Linked DNA regions of Homo sapiens. The protein of the gene in region 3 interacts with the protein of the main gene of each other region in a pairwise test. Each region holds a gene or a part of one and is shown on either strand. Other genes may lie near its edges.

Region 1 (7,766 bases), on a different chromosome or scaffold from region 3:
CAGCTACTTGGGAGGCTGAGGCAGGAGAATCGATTGAACCCAGGAGGTGGAGGTTGCAGTGAGCCGAGATTACGCCACTGCACTCCAGGCTCCAGCCTGGGCAACAGAGTGAGACTCCATCTCAAAAAATAAAATAAAACAAACCAACAACAACAACAAAAACAACAAAACAAAAAGGTGAATGACAAAAGGCTTTGCAACTCCCTGTACAAATGAGAGTGACTATTATCAAATATCCCATCTGTGTTGGAAGCAATACTGCCCAGTGGTTATCTAATGCAGGCTTGTCCATCAGAAATAGAATGTGAGGCACATGTGTAATTTAAAATTATTTATTGGTCACATTAGAACACAGTAAAAAAAAACAGTGAAATAGTTTTAATAATAATTTCCTACCCCTAAGTGTGTGTGTGTGCTCGCGTGCACATTTCTGCATGTATTGGGGTGTTGTCCCTGGTCCCCAGGAGAGACAGCCAGGATCTTCACAGTCAGTGTAACTCTGGCTCCCTACTGGGACCCTCTGAATCTTTTGGTTGCCTAAAGACCACCAGGACCCAGAAACCCAAGAATACCTTTTTAGAAGCACTGGGTTGGAATCTGACAGCGGTTGTATGGGGCAAGGGAAAGTGGAAGTGATAGCTGCCTTTGGGAAGAGGAAAAGGAAGAGTAAGGGCAAAAAACAGAAACAAAAATCCCCCAGAAAACCCTCCTGTCTCTTTTTGGGTTCCATAGACCTTGGGAGGATCCCACGGAATGGGAGCAACATAATACTTTTCCACTGAGCCTCACAAAAGGTGGCAGAGACCTGAGGGCTCCTTGGAAAAGACAGGTGACACTACATCTGGGTGATGCAAAGGCAGAAGTCAAGCTCCTGCGGCAGGCGGGAGGTGGGGGTCCCCTGATTCAGGACCCTCCCTGGCAGAACTTGCCTCTGAGGCCCTTGAGACCACTGGCCTCTGCTTAGCGACTCCGCATAGTACGATCCGGAGCCCACCGAGCTTTGAAGCTGGAAGTTTCCCGCTCCCGCATCCCGCGTGCTGCTGCGCCTCTCCACCAACACACACGCGCGCGCAAACAGCACACGCACGAACACACCCCTCCCGCACGCCTCCAACAGCACCCATGCGTGCACAGAGACGCCTCCTCGCTCACCAACCACCTGCAACCCTCAGGGAAATAACGCCGAAGGTGAACGGCGCACCTTCGGGCTGAATGAGGATGCCAGGAATGCCGCTCTGGTTTCCAGGCGTACGGGAGGACACGCCGCCGGGCCTCTCTGGAGTTATTCCCTCGGCTGAGTGGGGGCCAACGAGGGCAGCGCGGCAAACCTCACACCTGGCGGCTGGCTGTGGGCTCCACGCTCCCTTAGGGAATAACCTCTTCTCTTACTCCTACCCCGAATGCTCCAAGGCTCTGCAGCGGCTCGGACCCTGCAGAGCTTCCTCCATCACCATTTGTAGCTAAAGAATCCCGAGGCGGTGCGTCCCAGAGGCATAGCCTCTGGCCCAACCTGGCGTGGGTAGAGAGGAGGTCACTCTTGGGTAAACACCTTAAATGGGAGTTTTGGCAACAAGCTGTTCACTAGAGGGGCTGTGGCTGCCGCAAAATCCCCGACTTTCCTTCAGTGTGCCTTGGGACTCCGTGCATTTCCTTCAGTGTGCCTTGGGACTCCGTGCACTGCTCGCGTGTCTCCTGGCCTCCCTTTACTTCTCCTCGACCCTTCACTTCTTCCACCGTTCCTTCTTTTACTTTTTTTCTTTGAGCGTGTCGGACTCCCAGTCAATAGGTATACAGCAGCAATCCCTCACCCTCCTCACCTCAACCCTGCCTACGTTTTAGGGATAGGGTGAAGACTGCGGGCACTGCTGTGTATCCATGACGGGGAGCCGAGCCTGGCATGCTGATCCAGAGACCCCAGAGATGAGAAGCGGCATCCCGCGACAGCAGTCGGAAGTTGGAGGCTATAGGGCCTGGGGCTCCAAGTCAGCGCAGCAGTAACCGGGGTGGGGGAGGCCAGGCCACGAAGTGGGGCCGGCTGCGCAGCAGCGGCCTTAACTCCTCGGCCACCTGCATGTCTCCGTCATTCACCCACAGCCTGGCAGGGGTAGGGCTGTTTCCAACATTTTTTTTTGGTGGGGTAGGTTGTGGGGTGTGCAGAGGAGGGAGTGGCTAAGCTGGGAGAGGGGCAGAGAAACGGATTTGGGTGGGGAAGTGAGCCTGGGGATGGACAGAGATACCACAGTCAAAGCCCAGGCGAAGGGAGTGACCACAACAGAGACAGAGGCACAGGGACAAAGAAGAGCGCGGTTGCCCAAAGCCCGAGTCCAAGAGACCCTGAGTCGGAGGCAGGCCGCCCGCAGGAGAAGAGGAGGTTCGGAACCGCAGACCTGGGGCCTCAGGAATCCCCAGGGCCTTAATGGGCCACGGAAGTCTTCGACGGCCAGTGTCAGGCAGAGCCGAGGGGACGTATGGGCGGGGGTGGAGTGGGTCACAGCTTGGCCTGTCCATCTTGGTGCCCGCGCAGAAGTCCACAGTGGCAGAAACACTCTGGGAGCCACAGGTCTCTTAGGACCCTGAGGGAGGGTGCTACCAGCTCTAGTCCAGTCGGGACCAAGAGAGTCAGGCGTGCTTGTCCCGCCCTGGCCGCCTGAGGCCGGAGCCATACATAGTCTGCACAGATCCGAGACACCCGGTCCCGAGTGATCTGGAAACGAGTGTGCTCTCACTGCGTTCAAACAAGACGAGGACATTTACAAGGTGCGAGTCCCCAACCCCCAGCTACTGGCAGGGGCTGCGCAGCGGCACCGCCCAGGCTCTCTCTCCAGGCGGCCGACTCATTTCTGCGGAGAGCACGCTTCTCGAAGAGGGTTGTAGACGCGCTCTTCCAGCATTTAATTTGCCACCCCACAAGATTGAGTTAAGTTTTAGTTAAAATACACTCATTTTATTAAAAATAGGCGGCCCAATACCACGCCGTACCCCAGCCTCTCCGAGGGCGCAAGAGAATAGAGAGTTTTCAGATTAATTGGAGGCAAATATTTTACCTTCTAACATTTAAAAATAATCTAGGCGCGTCTGCACCGGTGTGGCTCACGCGACCCCTACGCGCGAGGTCAGTCGGGCTGGTCCAGCGCAGACAGCGGCCGGGACTCACTCACCCAGTGCGCGCCTCTCCTGCCTTTCGCTGCGCGCGCCCAAAGCTAGAAAGAAGAAGGTGACGCGGGAGGCGGGTCGGGTCTCCGGGTCCAGCGAATTCGCGATCTATCCGGTTTCGGCGCCTGAGCCGAGGTCTCAGAAAGAACCCGTTAATTCTAGCCATCCTGGATCTGGGTAGGGAGGGTGCGCGGCTCCCAAGCCCAGTCTGGATGCCTAGTGCGGTGTGCTTCGGTCTCCCCGTCTGCCCTCCGGGGAGGTTTCTCACCCGGTGGCCCTGGGCCGCTTCACTGTGGCGCTTCCACTTTTGGCTACCGGCCTTCCTCCGCCCAGGACCTTCCGGCCCAGGGAGCAGCCGACGGGCACCCCCGAACGCTGGGGCACGGAATTTCAACGGGGCGACCAGAGCGGAGCTCGCGGCTCGAGGCTCGCGGCTGAGTACGAAGACGGGACCCGAGGACCTGTACATCGCTCGAGGGGAACCTGTCCTGGGCTCTGGTGCACACATAGTATGCGTTCTGGGCTGGCTTGGGTTGGGCCAGGTAGGGGAGACCTGGCTGGGTACGAGGCGCCGTCCAAGCCTTCCGGCCGTGGGCCGGGCGGTCGCGGCGCCTTTGCGCACAGTGGCCACTTGGGGTCGCACTTTATGCCTGTTTGAGCCTCTCCGCGGCGGGCTGACGCCGGGATCTGCTTAATCGTTACAAAACGTTCAAACAAAAACAGGGCCGGCTCCCCAGCAGTGGAGAGCTACTCGGAGCACCGTCCCGGGCCGGCCTCGGCCCCGAGGCTCCGGGGGCTCAGGATTCCGTGCGTGTGGCGGGGAAGAGGAATTCAGAGCCTTTGGGCTGCTGCTTTTCCCGTCGCCTTCACTGTGAACATTGTGCGGTGGGGTGAACGCGGGGAGCGGCGGGGCCAGTGGAGTCGAACCTCAGGGCTCTGCGACTGCACCCGCCAGGAGGGGCCCTCGCTTGGCCTGAGAAAGGTCCCCTGAGGTTAAGAGTTGGGTCTGAACACAACTCTCGGAGCCTCGAGCCCGCCCTCCCCAACATACAAATACGCGCAGATCTCCAGAAACAGGAACGCACGACACACACGGCCAGAAGCCGCGAGGACACACAGAGCGTCGCCCACTGGGCGGGGGCCGCTTGGGAACAAAGGGCCCAGGAGGCGTTGTCCCGGCGCTCATTCTGAGCCTCCTTGGGGGTGACACGGGATGGGGGTGGGGTGCAAAGGGAACTGAGGGAGGAGAGTGCGCGAGGAGGGGAAAGCGGTGATTTGGCCTAGAGGTGGGGCGCGCACTCCAGGCGAGCGTGCGTGGGCCGGGACCTGCAGGGTACGGGGGTGGGCCCAGGCTGGCCGTCCCACTCCGCTCCAGCGCTCCGCCAGGCCTCCGCCGCTCCGGGGCCGCTCGGGCCGCCAGTCAGCTGACGCGGGGGGCGGGGGAGCTGTCAGGCGCGCCCCGCCCTGCGCCGCTGGGCCGCGGAGGCCGTGCAGCTATTGGCCCGCGCACCGGGCCGCCCGGGCCCCCGCACCCCAGTGACATCAGGAGGCGATAAAAGGCTGCGGCGCCGCCGGATCCAGCACAGCTGCACCGCCGAGCTGCGAGCGGCTGCGAGCGAGAGAGCGTAAGAGCAAGAGAGCTAGAGAGCGAGCAACGGGCACTCGCCCCACGCCTCCCCTCAGCCCCACCGCGCGCTCCGCTTGCCTCTCCACCCCGCCCGACTCTACCCGGCCCGGTCCCTGCGCGGGCACAGCCCAGAGCTCTGGGGCGGTGCAGGCAGCCTCGGGACTCTCCGGCGCGCCGCCGCGTCCCCAGACAAAGGCTTGGCCGGCGGCCCCGGCCCGCTGCGCCCTCGCTCCCCGCCTCCCCAGCTCTTCTCCGCTCTTCCCCCCCGCGCTTGGCTCGGCGCGCTCCGGCCGGCCGCAAAGTTTCCCGGGCGGCAGCGGCGGCTGCGCCTCGCTTCAGCGATGGCCGCGGAGCTGAGCATGGGGCCAGAGCTGCCCACCAGCCCGCTGGCCATGGAGTATGTCAACGACTTCGACCTGCTCAAGTTCGACGTGAAGAAGGAGCCACTGGGGCGCGCGGAGCGTCCGGGCAGGCCCTGCACACGCCTGCAGCCAGCCGGCTCGGTGTCCTCCACACCGCTCAGCACTCCGTGTAGCTCCGTGCCCTCGTCGCCCAGCTTCAGCCCGACCGAACAGAAGACACACCTCGAGGATCTGTACTGGATGGCGAGCAACTACCAGCAGATGAACCCCGAGGCGCTCAACCTGACGCCCGAGGACGCGGTGGAAGCGCTCATCGGCTCGCACCCAGTGCCACAGCCGCTGCAAAGCTTCGACAGCTTTCGCGGCGCTCACCACCACCACCATCACCACCACCCTCACCCGCACCACGCGTACCCGGGCGCCGGCGTGGCCCACGACGAGCTGGGCCCGCACGCTCACCCGCACCATCACCATCATCACCAAGCGTCGCCGCCGCCGTCCAGCGCCGCTAGCCCGGCGCAACAGCTGCCCACTAGCCACCCCGGGCCCGGGCCGCACGCGACGGCCTCGGCGACGGCGGCGGGCGGCAACGGCAGCGTGGAGGACCGCTTCTCCGACGACCAGCTCGTGTCCATGTCCGTGCGCGAGCTGAACCGCCACCTGCGGGGCTTCACCAAGGACGAGGTGATCCGCCTGAAGCAGAAGCGGCGGACCCTGAAGAACCGGGGCTACGCCCAGTCTTGCAGGTATAAACGCGTCCAGCAGAAGCACCACCTGGAGAATGAGAAGACGCAGCTCATTCAGCAGGTGGAGCAGCTTAAGCAGGAGGTGTCCCGGCTGGCCCGCGAGAGAGACGCCTACAAGGTCAAGTGCGAGAAACTCGCCAACTCCGGCTTCAGGGAGGCGGGCTCCACCAGCGACAGCCCCTCCTCTCCCGAGTTCTTTCTGTGAGTCGTGGCCGGTCCTGGCCCCCGCCCTTGCCCCGGCCCGGACTCCCTGTCCCACGTCCCTAGTCCCAGACTACCCCGGACCCTGTCCCTGCCGCGGCCCCAGCCTTGACCTGTTTGACTTGAGCGAGAGGGAGGAAGGGCGCGCGGGCCGCGGGCGACGGGCGGGTGCGCGGGCGGGCAGGGGACCTTGGCTAAGGCGAGAGTAGCGCACGCCAGCGCCGCCTCCTAGACTCGAGCAGAGCCGGAGAGAGAGACGAGAGGGTGGGAGGTCCCGGAGTAACTTCTCTCCAGGCTGAAGGGCGGCGAGGCATAGTCCCGAGAAGTCACCAAGGCCATCTGGAGACTCCTGGCTTTCTGAACTTTGCGCGTTAAGCCGGGACAGCTGCTTTGCTGCCCGGAGAGTAGTCCGCGCCAGGAAGAGAGCAACGAGGAAAGGAGAGGGACTCTGGCGTCCCGGCAGGCGAGAGGCGAGGCTGAGCGAAAGAAGGAAGGACAGACGGACCTGTCTGTCAGAGTTCGGAGAACACTGGCTCTCAGCCCTGAGACACAGGCCTCAGTTAGGACGCTCGGCGCCCAAATCTCATCAGTTTTATTGCCTGCTCGATTATATAGAAAAATACAAAAAATCTGCATTAAAAATATTAATCCTGCATGCTGGACATGTATGGTAATAATTTCTATTTTGTACCATTTTCTTGTTTAACTTTAGCATGTTGTTGATCATGGATCATACTCCCCTTGTTTCTTTGGGTGAGAAGGGATCGCAGTTTGGAAACTCCGGCGGCTGCGTGCGGGGTTTCAGTCCCAGCTGTAGGCTTGTAAATACCCGCCCCGCCAAACCGCATAGAGAACGTGGCAGCAAGCTGAGGGTCTTTGTTTGGGTTTATTATTACGGTATTTTTGTTTGTAAGTTAAAAAGAAAAAAAAAAAGAAAAAGTTCCGGGCATTTTGCATCAGAAAACAACTTTGTCTTGGGGCACACTTGGAAGTTGCATGTTTTCTTTCCTTCCCTTATCCCCATTCGGTCCTCTTTTTCCTCTCTCGCTTTAGTTTTCAACCTTGTTGGTGCTGAGAGAGAGAACCGAGAGGTCCCAGTACAAGGGCAGGGCAGGGCAGGGAAGCTGCCAAGCTCCGCACCCCAGAGGAGTGTTCTGGACTACAGCCTTGTCTTATGGTCAAATTGATACCCTTAATAAGAAAGGAAAGGAAAGGAAAACAGATCCTCCCCTCTGCTTTTTATTGTAACCAGAATCACCCTGAGGTCCCTTCTGAACCCTCTGGGCCTGCGCTAATTGTAGGAGCCACAGCGCTCCTAGGGTGAGAGGCTTAGCCATCCCTGACCCTGGCAGTGCACTGGTAAGCAGACACTGCACTGAACCAACTGCTATGCTCAGAATGTACCAGAAACCCAAACATTGGCAAGTAATTTTGCAACTTTCAAGTGCGTTCTTTAGACCAATGCATTGCGTTTCTTTCCCTGCTTTTGAGATAGTAGGAAGAGTTCTTGGTGGTGTCCCCCCCCTTCAATTCTTCAGTTGTATAGTAGTTATAGGGAAGATATGGGTGTTTTTCTTTATTATTACTTTTTTTTTTCTGCAGGTCAGTAAAAGGATTTAAGTTGCACTGACAAAAATACCAAAATAAAAGTGTATTTTTAAGTTCCCATTTGAAATT
Region 2 (7,037 bases), on a different chromosome or scaffold from region 3:
TGAATTGGAGTCTTTTCTTTTCCAGACCCCACAGCAGGGAGTCCTTAGCTTTGCAAGCCCCAGAAGGTTCCTTTGCTTGGCTCACTTGAAAGACCTAGGCTGGTATCACCCACTTCTTTCAGAAAGGCCAACATTGCCCCAGACTGGGATGTACTCACCATCTTGGCTTCTGATGGTATAGGGTGGCCAGAGGGAGAAATGGAGCCACTACTGTTAACTGGTGGGCCAGGGATACCAGGAATGTTGGGCACCATGGACACAGGTCTGGCCAGCTGGATCGAGAGAAGGAAAAAAAAAAAAAGAGAAGGGAACATAATACCATCGGTGGGGCAACAGTTTCCCTAAAATGAAGCGCTTTTGAGATTGGCACATCAGGGCCTGTTGTGTGCAATGTGCCCATAGGGCGTGCAGGGACAGCCTGGGAAATACCTTTCTCCATGGAGCACCAGAGTAGGGAATTTAATCCTTCAGTGTTGGGGCAATTTCTGTGGGAAGGGTTGGGGCTGTTATCTTGAGGAAATTGTTGGGCAATTTGGGAGGTGCTACGTGCCAAGTGAAAGCAACTAATCAGTGGGCTGGCAAGATCAATTCCTAGACCAGGAGCCAATTGTCCAGATGAGTCTTTATCTAGTGTTCCATAGTGCTGGATTGGCAGAGGTTAGTGAAGAGTTTAGGCAGGCTGCCATGCTCAGCTAATATAGATCAGAGCCCACATTTCCCTGGGGCTCATGTGTATTTTATGACCATTCAGGTGGAAGGGAAGGATTACCATGTTGGTAGGGTTGGCTGCCCCAACTACAGAGCTCACCGATATAACAGACGGCATCTGTACTGGAGGCCCTGGCAACACAGGCATGGTCTGTCCATTAGCAAGATGCATGACAAGAGGGAGGGAGCCAGTGGGAGACCTAGAGGAGACATGAAGTGAAATGCTCATAACACAGACCTTTTGTCCATGGATCTTCCTCTTATAATTACAGAAGATTTTCCAGTCTTCTCTAGTTAGGGAAGGTATAGGGCAGCATGGTAAAAATCTTGACACCCTCATGAAGGTGAGAAGGCAGGGAATCCTATTCAACTTACCTTATAGATGGAGAAAAATGGCAAAATCTTTATACTTTGCAAATTAAGCAAACTCAAATAGTAGGAAGCTAATCCTATTAAAGGGTTTAGAACAATTAAACATTCCTACCACTGGCTTGCCTTGGGAAAGGGGAAGTTGGATCAAAGTCGTCATTTTGCAAAGCTGAGTTAGGTCACATGATGGCCAAATCTGAATGTTTCTCTTGTTTCTTTCCATGGCTTGCTCTACCCTGCCTCAAAAAGAAGTTGTCCCTTTTTATTTTTCCTAGTGGGTCCAGAGAACAATAAGCTCTAAGAATCTGAATCCTGACAACAGCCTCTTAACCCATGGGTACCGTGCCAGGAGTGAAGACAAACAGACAAATAAAATTAGAGGTGGCAAAGACCAAGAACCCTAACTGGGACTGAGGAGACTTAATGGGTTTCAGTGTTTCATTCAGTAGTACCCCAATAGACTTCTACAGGGTGTGGTTTCCACACTGTAATGAACTTCTAATGTTTTAAGAGCTCTTTTTAGATTAAAGAAGTATTAAACCCTTAAATTAAGAAAGTATTACCCCCGGCTGGGCACGGTGGCTCACGCCTGTAATCCCGGCACTTTGGGAGGCAGAGGCAGGCGGATCACGAGGTCAGGAGATCGAGATCGTCCTGGCTAACACGGTGAAACCCCGTCTCTACTAAAAATACAAAAAATTAGCTGGGCGTGGTTGCAGGCGCCTGTGTTCCCAGCTACTCGGGAGGCTGAGGCAGGAGAATGGCCTGAACCCGGGAGACGGAGCTTGCAGTGAGCCGAGATTGCACCACTGCACTCCAGCCTGGGCGACAGAGCGAGCCTCTATCTCAAAAAAACCCAAAAAAAACAAAAAGTATTACCTCCAAATAAATATTTGCTTGTCTATTAAAAAGGTAAAGAAGATTCTGTTTATGGGGGAAAAATTTATTTTGAGAGATAATCTCAGTGACTTATTTTCCTTGGGTATTGGAAAACAGTCCCAGTTTTATCAAATAGTTTCATGTAATGGAAAGAAATGCAGCCTTCACTACTTCTCCCTGCTCTCTGTACTTACCCCATTTGCCTGTTGGATGGTGGAGCCTGTGTGATGACAGAGGTTGGGGAGGGAAGGGTTGGATGAAGTGGATCATAGCCCAAGTGGAGAGGCAGGGAGCCAGGACGTACAATGGTGGGTGTGGGGGTAGAGATCAGAACAGGCTTTGGGGTAACCTCCTGGAGAAAAGAAACCAACAGATCACAAAATGTTTTAAGGTGTGCTTATAGGGAAATATATAGATGGTAAAATCTAGTACAAATTTATTGGAAAGAGCATTAGAGCCACTCATTAAATCATGACCTGATTCCATCAGGATCAGGGACCCATAACTCACTCATCCATTCAGGAGGAATGGTGTATTAAGATCTCTTGGTCATCTCCCCTTTCAGAGACAATGGCTACATAAATAAGATGACAGTTGGAATATCACTTGAAATCTCTGAAGCAGCACTGTAGTACCATATAAATTCTAGAGACTGTTATAATTTTTCACAATCTAGATACTCTCATTCTAAACTTGATACCAAGTGTCCTCTGAACTTCAGTGGGAAAAGGCAGGTATACTGGTAATGATGGTAATGAGGCAACCCAACATCTCCAACACACCTCTTAAAAAAGGGCTATGGAAGTTTGGATAATGATCATACTGTAATAAAACAAACTGCTCTCATTGTTAACTTCTTAAGATCTTAGACTGCCAGTGGTCAAATGGCCTTGACAGCATCCCCAGACAGTCTGTAGGACTTTGTTGCTGATGAAAAGGGAGGAGAGAGGCGGAGGAGGTTGCAGTGAGCTGAGATCGCACCACTGCACTCCAGCCTGGCGACAGAGCGAGACTCTGCCTCAAAAAAAAAAAAAAAAAGAAAAGGGAGGAGATGGGATGGTTGTAATGTTTATGAGAAGACAGATTTGAGAAGTTATCAAGTCAAATTTGGAGGGAAGTAACATGAGATATAGATGCTCTATCCATAGTGGATGTTAAAATTAACAACCACTGGCAGAGCAGTAGATTGAAAGAAGGAGGAAGCATGAGGGGGCTTCTGAGGTTCTAAGAAAATGTTTTTGATCTAGGTGCTGGTTATACAGACTACTGACTTCGTGAAAATTCAGTAAGTGATATAATTACAATTTATATACTTTTCTGTACATGTACTATATTTCAATAAATGTATTAAAAATAGTACTTCATGAAAGTACTTCCTTTAAAAAGAATAATCATCAGACTTCTAGTAGATACTTCCTTTAAATCACTTCTCTCTAGGATGACATTTTTTCGAAACTGTTAGATGTCCAATTTATGAATTATGTGAATTTTTCTTTCTCACTTATTAATTGAAGTATAACATACAGTGATGTGCATTAAAGTCATAACAACAAAATGACTTTTAGGCTGGGTGCGGTGCTCACGTCTGTAATCGCAGCACTTTGGGAGGCTGAAGCAAGAGAATTGCTTGAGCCTGGGAGGCAGACGTTGCAGTGAGCTGAGATTGCACCACTGCACTCCAGCCTGGGCATCAGAGCAAGACTTTCTCTCAAAAGAAAAAAAAAAAAAGATGACTTGTTACAGATGTAAAATCAGGATACAGACCATTTCCAGCACCCCAGAAAGTTCTATGTCCCTTTCCAATCCACACCATTCCTTCACAGGAGGTAAATGCTATCCTGAGTTCTATCATTGTCAAACAGTTTTGCCTCTTCTTGAATTTTATAAGTATGTACTTTTGTGTATGACTTTTTTGTTGTTGTTGGATATGTTTGTGGGATTCACTCACATTGCTGTGTAATTATTAGTTCACTTTTTTTTTTTTTTTGAGACGGAGTTTTGCTCTGTCGCTCAGGCTGGAGTGCAATGGTGCAATCTTGGCTCACTGAAACCCTGGCCTCCTGGGTTCAAGCAATTCTCCTATCTCAGCCTCCCGAGTAGCTGGGATTATAGGCACACACCACCACATCCAGCTAATTTTTGTATTTTTGGTAGAGATGGGGTTTCACTATGTTGGCCAGGCTGGTCTTGAACTCCTGGCCTCAAGTGATTCCACCACCTCGGCCTCCCAAAGTGCTGGGATTACAGGCATGAGCCACCGTGCCTGACTGATTTTTGGCTATTAAGAATACAATTGCTGGCCGGGCGCGGTGGCTCAATCCTGTAACCCTAGCACTTTGGGAGGCCGAGGCGGGCAGATCGCCTGAGGTCAGGAGATCGAGACCAGCCTGACAAATGTGGTGAAACCCCATCTCTACTAAAAGTACAAAAATTAGCCGGGCGTGGTGGCACGCACCTGTAGTCCCAGCTACTTGGGAGGCTGAGGCAGGAGAATCGCTCAAACCTGGGAGGCAGAGGTTGCAGTGAGCCAAGATCACGCCATTGCACTCCAGCCTGGGTGACAGAGTGAGACTGTCTCAACAACAACAACAACAACAAAAGAATACAATTGCTATGAACATTCTAACATACTTCTTTTGGTAGACATATGCACTAATTTCTCTTCCATATAGACTTATAAGTGAAATTGCTGGGAAGGAGAATAGGTATAATTTATATAAATCTTCTAAATATTCCTTTAAATACAATCGGTCCTCCTATAATACATACTTTTTTTTTTCTTGAGACAGTCTCACTCTGTTGCCCAGGCTGGGGTGCAGTGGAGCAATCACAGCTCACTGCAGCCTCGACCTCTAGGGCTTAAGTGATCCTCCACCTCATACTCTCAAGTAGCTGGAACTACAGGCATGCTCCACCACGCCCAGGTAATTTTTGTATTTTAAGTGGAGATGGGGTTTCTCCATGTTGCCCAGGCTGGTCTTGAATTTCTGGGCTCAAGTGATTCTCCCATCTTGGCCTCCTGAGTAGTTAGGACATACTATTTATATAATTAATGAATCAAAACTTTATCAATTAACATTTGAGATGATCCTTGGTAGAGAATTTACCTTCTCCTTCAGTGGTGGGGAACAGGGACTAGAGGCAGGGCTATCAGGTGGGGATGAGTCTACCTCCACTGGCTCTTCTTCTTTGATTTTGATGTCTGGTGTGGAAGGCAGAGACATGTCAAGGGGCCCAGCAGCAGCCTGTTGTGAAAGAAAAATGAACAGAGTTTAACCCTATGATTCCTTTCAGGTTGAATCTATATTTTCCCATTTCCAAGATAAGGGAATATGCTTCTAAGAAGTTCTGCTCTTATACAATGCACTGAACTGCATGTCAAATAAATGTGGGCCCCTTATGTTTGATTTGTTTTGTATTTTGAGGCGTAGTTTCAATCTTGTTGCCCAGGCTAGAGTGCAATGGTGTGATCTCGTCTCACTGCAACTTCCACCTCCCAAGTTCAAGAGATTCTCCCGCCTCAGCCTCCCAAGTAGCTGGGATTATAGGCATGTGCCACCACGCCCAGCTAATTTTTTATTTTTAATAGAGATGGGGTTTCTCCATGTTGGTCAGGCTGATCTCGAACTCCCGACCTCAGGTGATTCACCTGCCTCAGCCTCCCAAAGTGTTGGGATTACAGGAATGAGCCACTGCATCCGGCCAAGAAATATGGGCCCCTTATGTTTTATGTACAATTCTGGCCAAATCATTTTGTCGGTAATTCTCAGGGCTTCTGTTTCCCCAACTATAAGATGAAGATAATACCTGCTTCACCAATGGTAAACAAATATTTATAAAGACCTGAAAAAAAAGATGCCATTTAAATCCATGCAAATATTATGATAATATTTTTCAGGAAATCAAAATAATTCCTGAATCTGCTGGCCACTGGAGAGCTGTGAACACTTTCTCTGCCAACAAGGATTACCCAATTACCAAAAGCAAACAAAGACAAACTGGCTATTCAAGTACTGCAAACCAGATAGGAAAGGTATTTTCTGGGGAACTCACCATGCTTGATGGTGATCTCACCCCAAAATATGGTGCTGGATGTATCAGGTAGACAAGGGGTTTGGGGTAACAGAAAAGAAAGGCTGATCATCTGATTGGTGAAATAAATGACAACTTGGTCTTAGGAGCAAGACTGGAGAAAACCAGAAAGGAAAGAGAGCACTTTCCTGGCAGTGATGCAATCACCTCACAGAACTGTGGAGCTGTAAACGGCCTTGCAGGGAACAATAAACCATCTGAGATAATGGCCTTGACACTGAACCAGGATAGGAGGGTTGGCATTGCAGTTCAGTTTCATAACAAAGTGGATCCTTTGTTCTATCTATCCTGTATCCCAGGCTTCTTGGTGAAGCAACTGCTTGTTTCAAGATCTTCCCTTGCTACCCTAACCCTTAGAAACCTTCTTGATAGCTAGCTGAGTAAATTAAAGATAATGTGATATCTACTACATTAGAGAAGGTAGTAGTGGTTCATTTTCCCCAATCTGAGGAGGGTGAGCAACAGCAAAAGTAGCTTCATTTCTGCCTCATTTTTTCTACATAGCTAAGATGTCAGGTCCAATTTAGCTAATTCTGAGATCTCTTAAGTCAGAGACTAGTGGGAAGGAGAAGCCTCTAAGTAAATACAACCATAGATTTGAAATCCTCTAGGGCATCTCCTAGCAAAGCTGCGGTTCAGCAAAGTTCCACACTCATTAAACACTTCTGGAGACTCTTCCACTGAGCCTGTACTTCTCATTAAGGGGAAGTAAAGACCACTCCTGTACAGGCAGGAGGATACACCAAGGAATGCCCAGTGAGGAAAGGGCTGACTATAAACTAGTCTCCCAGAAGTGTCAACTGAGCTAAAATGGCAATGAAAAAGACTTGAAGCTTTTTATGGGAAGCTAATTTTCTTGAATTTGCCTATAATAAATTGGGTATAAAATCCCTCATAGGCCAAGTGTGGTGGCTCATGCCTGTAATCTCAACACTTTGGGAGGCCAAGGTGGGAGGATCACCTGAGGCCCGAAATTCTAGACCAGCCTG
Region 3 (2,764 bases):
AATAGGATGAAACTCAATCTTTTTCTATTGTGGGTTTGCATTTGAAAAGCAGGTTGAATCCTTGCTCTCTTCTCCAAATTTGGTGTGGTATAAAGACACACAAATCATTTTAACTTGGACATTTAAAGATCAGTCTTAGTGTTTGTTCAGTCCTGTTACAAAATAGATAACTGAGCACCTATCGCATAACATTTTGCGGTGGCTTTTAGCCATGCTGGGGTTAGATGTGTTTGAGAGTCAAATGAAAGCTATGGATCTTCTCAGCAATTAAAAAAAATGCATATATTCACATTCACAGAAACATTGGCAGAACCCAGTTTTAATGGTACAGAGGAGTAGTTTATAGTGTTGATTTCACCAAAATCAGAGGGCTGAAAGAGACACTTCTATAGACTGCATCCTGAGCCTAGTGCAGGGCTTGTCTAGCTAATGTGGGCAGCCACCACCCACTGTGTATGAACAAGTCTGAAGCAAGTTGGCCTTGCCCTTGAGAGTATATGGGGACCAGTCTTCATGTCTTGGAGTAATTTGTCAAATGTTACCCTTTTTGATCAGGGTGTAGGGGGAGGATATTGCTAGTATATTTTCAGTGGTTTGTATGTTCTCTCTGTCACTGACTTATTTGTAAGAGAAAATTAGTTGGACTTGTTTATTTTCTAGTAGCTTTTATAAGTACACTCAAGAATTTGTCAGGGAGAATAATTCTGATAGTGCATCCCATACTGCAAAAGAATTTGTGTGTGTGTGTGTGTGTGTGTGTGTGTGTGTGTATGTGTATGTATACATATATATCTCTCCATATAGGTATTTCTTTGATACTTGTAATTTTAAATTTCAGCTTCACGATATAAAATAATATAAGAACTTCTGGTTTACAAAATGTAAAATCTTAAGCCAATGGAACCCTTGATTTCCTACCTCAGTGTACACCCAACTATTGGTTGTATCAGTTTGTGTATGTGCAAATGTCAAATAATCTTTTGCTTTAATTGCTACTGTACTTGCTTTGAAAGATTACCTACTATTTTATGATAAAATGTAGTTGTCTCCAGAGCTTAAATATAATTTGTAAAGCACTTGGTTTAAATTTCTCTCTACCTATAAACAGTTTAGCATTAAGGGTTTCTATTAATGACACAGAATTATTGGCCAAGTGTAATTTCTTAAAATTTAGCATTACTTTAAATAGCCAGCATGTAATACAAGTAACTACACTACCTCATATCTACATGATTTTCAAGTTGTAATGCAGATGGACAGATAAAAAAGATTTTACGTTTGTCTTTTGGCCATAAGTGGGAAAGTTTTCTGTATATTGCATAGCATTACACATTTATGCCTATTTTAACATTAACTTCTAAAGAAGTTTTTTCTAAGAAAATGTTTCAAGGCAATATTTTTTTTGAGGCTGCCGAAGACAAATGACAGGATTATGAGTATACAGTGTATGCCTTTTCCTTCATGCAGAATTTTGAAATGTTTTCAGTTTGTATATTGCATATTCACATGATCATTGTTCACTATTTTATGAACTGGCCTTCTCAATGTTTGATGATTTTTTAAAAGCTGTTATGTTGAATTCAGTAAAATAACATTACCTTATTTTTTTTCTTATTCAAATTCTGGAACTATAGCAAATAATTCGTTAAATTGTCATATTCAAAACAAATGTGGATACAGTCTTGGTTCTCCATCTGTAATTTTTTTTAACAGTTTGCTATAGCTTACTGCTTAACTAATTTTAAATAAGGAAATAAGTATGTTAGATGCAGTAGACGATACAGGTTGCATGTGGACACTCAGTCACATTAACAACTTGGGAAAAAAATGGCAATGTTACGGTGAATTCTCAGGTGAACTTTTTTCAGTTATAAAACATCTATTTTGAATCTGTAAATATTTTAAATGTTTTATTAAGGCATGTAATAAACTATTCTTTGAAACTTGTTGGGTAGAATGAAAATTAAAGCCATAATGGTAGAAGATGGCATACTGATTATAAAAGAAGCAGAAAAACATTGATTTTTTTATATCTTTCATAATATAATTTTCTAACAATGCAATAAAACCACTAAACTTTTGTGTCCATATTTTACTGAGACCATGTTTCATTAAAAGCATAGTTTCATAGTATTTAATTTACATTTCTCCCTAATGTTCTTACCCAAATGTACCTGAACTAAAAAATGTTAGATGTTGGTGATAAGTTGACAGTTAAATAAAATTCTCTAAAATTGCTTCTAATTGAATAGAATTGTACATTCCATTTTCATTTTCTCACTTCATGTGGATTTACTCAGTTTAGTCTTTTGATCGGTAATTAGTATATCTGAATTTGTAGGAGAGAATCTTTCCTTAGTTGATGATAATCATGCCTCAAAAAAAAAAAAATTCCAGCATTCAGGTGTTTTAGGAAGCACAGATTTTAGCTTTGCTTCTGATTTTACTTAATGTTAGTTTGGATAGAGAAGTATAGGGACTCTTAAGGGGTATTATCTCTATCAGTCATTAAGTTTTAAAAACTTATCTGCCGAGTCAGCTCTTTGTATCCTATTCAATTTCCAACCAGGCCCTTCTGACCAAGCTTTGGGCAGCTGCTCAGCGGTATTGGCCATCCAGGGCAAAGTCTTCTGGTCTAATCATAGTGATTCTCAGCTGGGGATGATTTTGCTTGCCTAGGGGACACTTGGCAGTTCCCAGAGACACAAATCTCGGGGGCAGGGTATAGGATATGGCTTCTAGGGGCAGAGGCCAGGACAGCCCT

What was found. Proteins that work in one complex are often made in the same cells at the same time.
Region 1: the proteins of BACH1 (region 3) and MAFB interact in binary tests that used the Homo sapiens proteins (3 or more experiments, as listed by UniProt).
Region 2: the proteins of BACH1 (region 3) and ATF7 interact in binary tests that used the Homo sapiens proteins (3 or more experiments, as listed by UniProt).

What each region holds. Positions count from the first base shown.
Region 1 is NC_000020.11:40,686,206-40,693,971, reverse strand, and holds the start of MAFB (transcription factor MafB), read left to right. Parts: upstream 1-4,735; 5' UTR 4,736-5,121; coding exon 5,122-6,093; 3' UTR 6,094-7,766.
Region 2 is NC_000012.12:53,532,352-53,539,388, forward strand, and holds part of ATF7 (cyclic AMP-dependent transcription factor ATF-7), read right to left. Parts: intron 5,990-7,037; exon of another isoform or gene 5,855-5,989; intron 5,202-5,854; coding exon 5,064-5,201; intron 3,242-5,063; exon of another isoform or gene 3,015-3,241; intron 2,309-3,014; coding exon 2,151-2,308; intron 909-2,150; coding exon 809-908; intron 273-808; coding exon 159-272; intron 1-158. Other genes in the region: ATF7-NPFF readthrough protein, read right to left, coding at 159-272, 809-908, 2,151-2,308, 5,064-5,201. UniProt on the Homo sapiens protein: Stress-responsive chromatin regulator that plays a role in various biological processes including innate immunological memory, adipocyte differentiation or telomerase regulation.
Region 3 is NC_000021.9:29,343,900-29,346,663, forward strand, and holds the end of BACH1 (transcription regulator protein BACH1), read left to right. Parts: 3' UTR 1-2,249; downstream 2,250-2,764. UniProt on the Homo sapiens protein: Transcriptional regulator that acts as a repressor or activator, depending on the context. Binds to NF-E2 DNA binding sites. Plays important roles in coordinating transcription activation and repression by MAFK.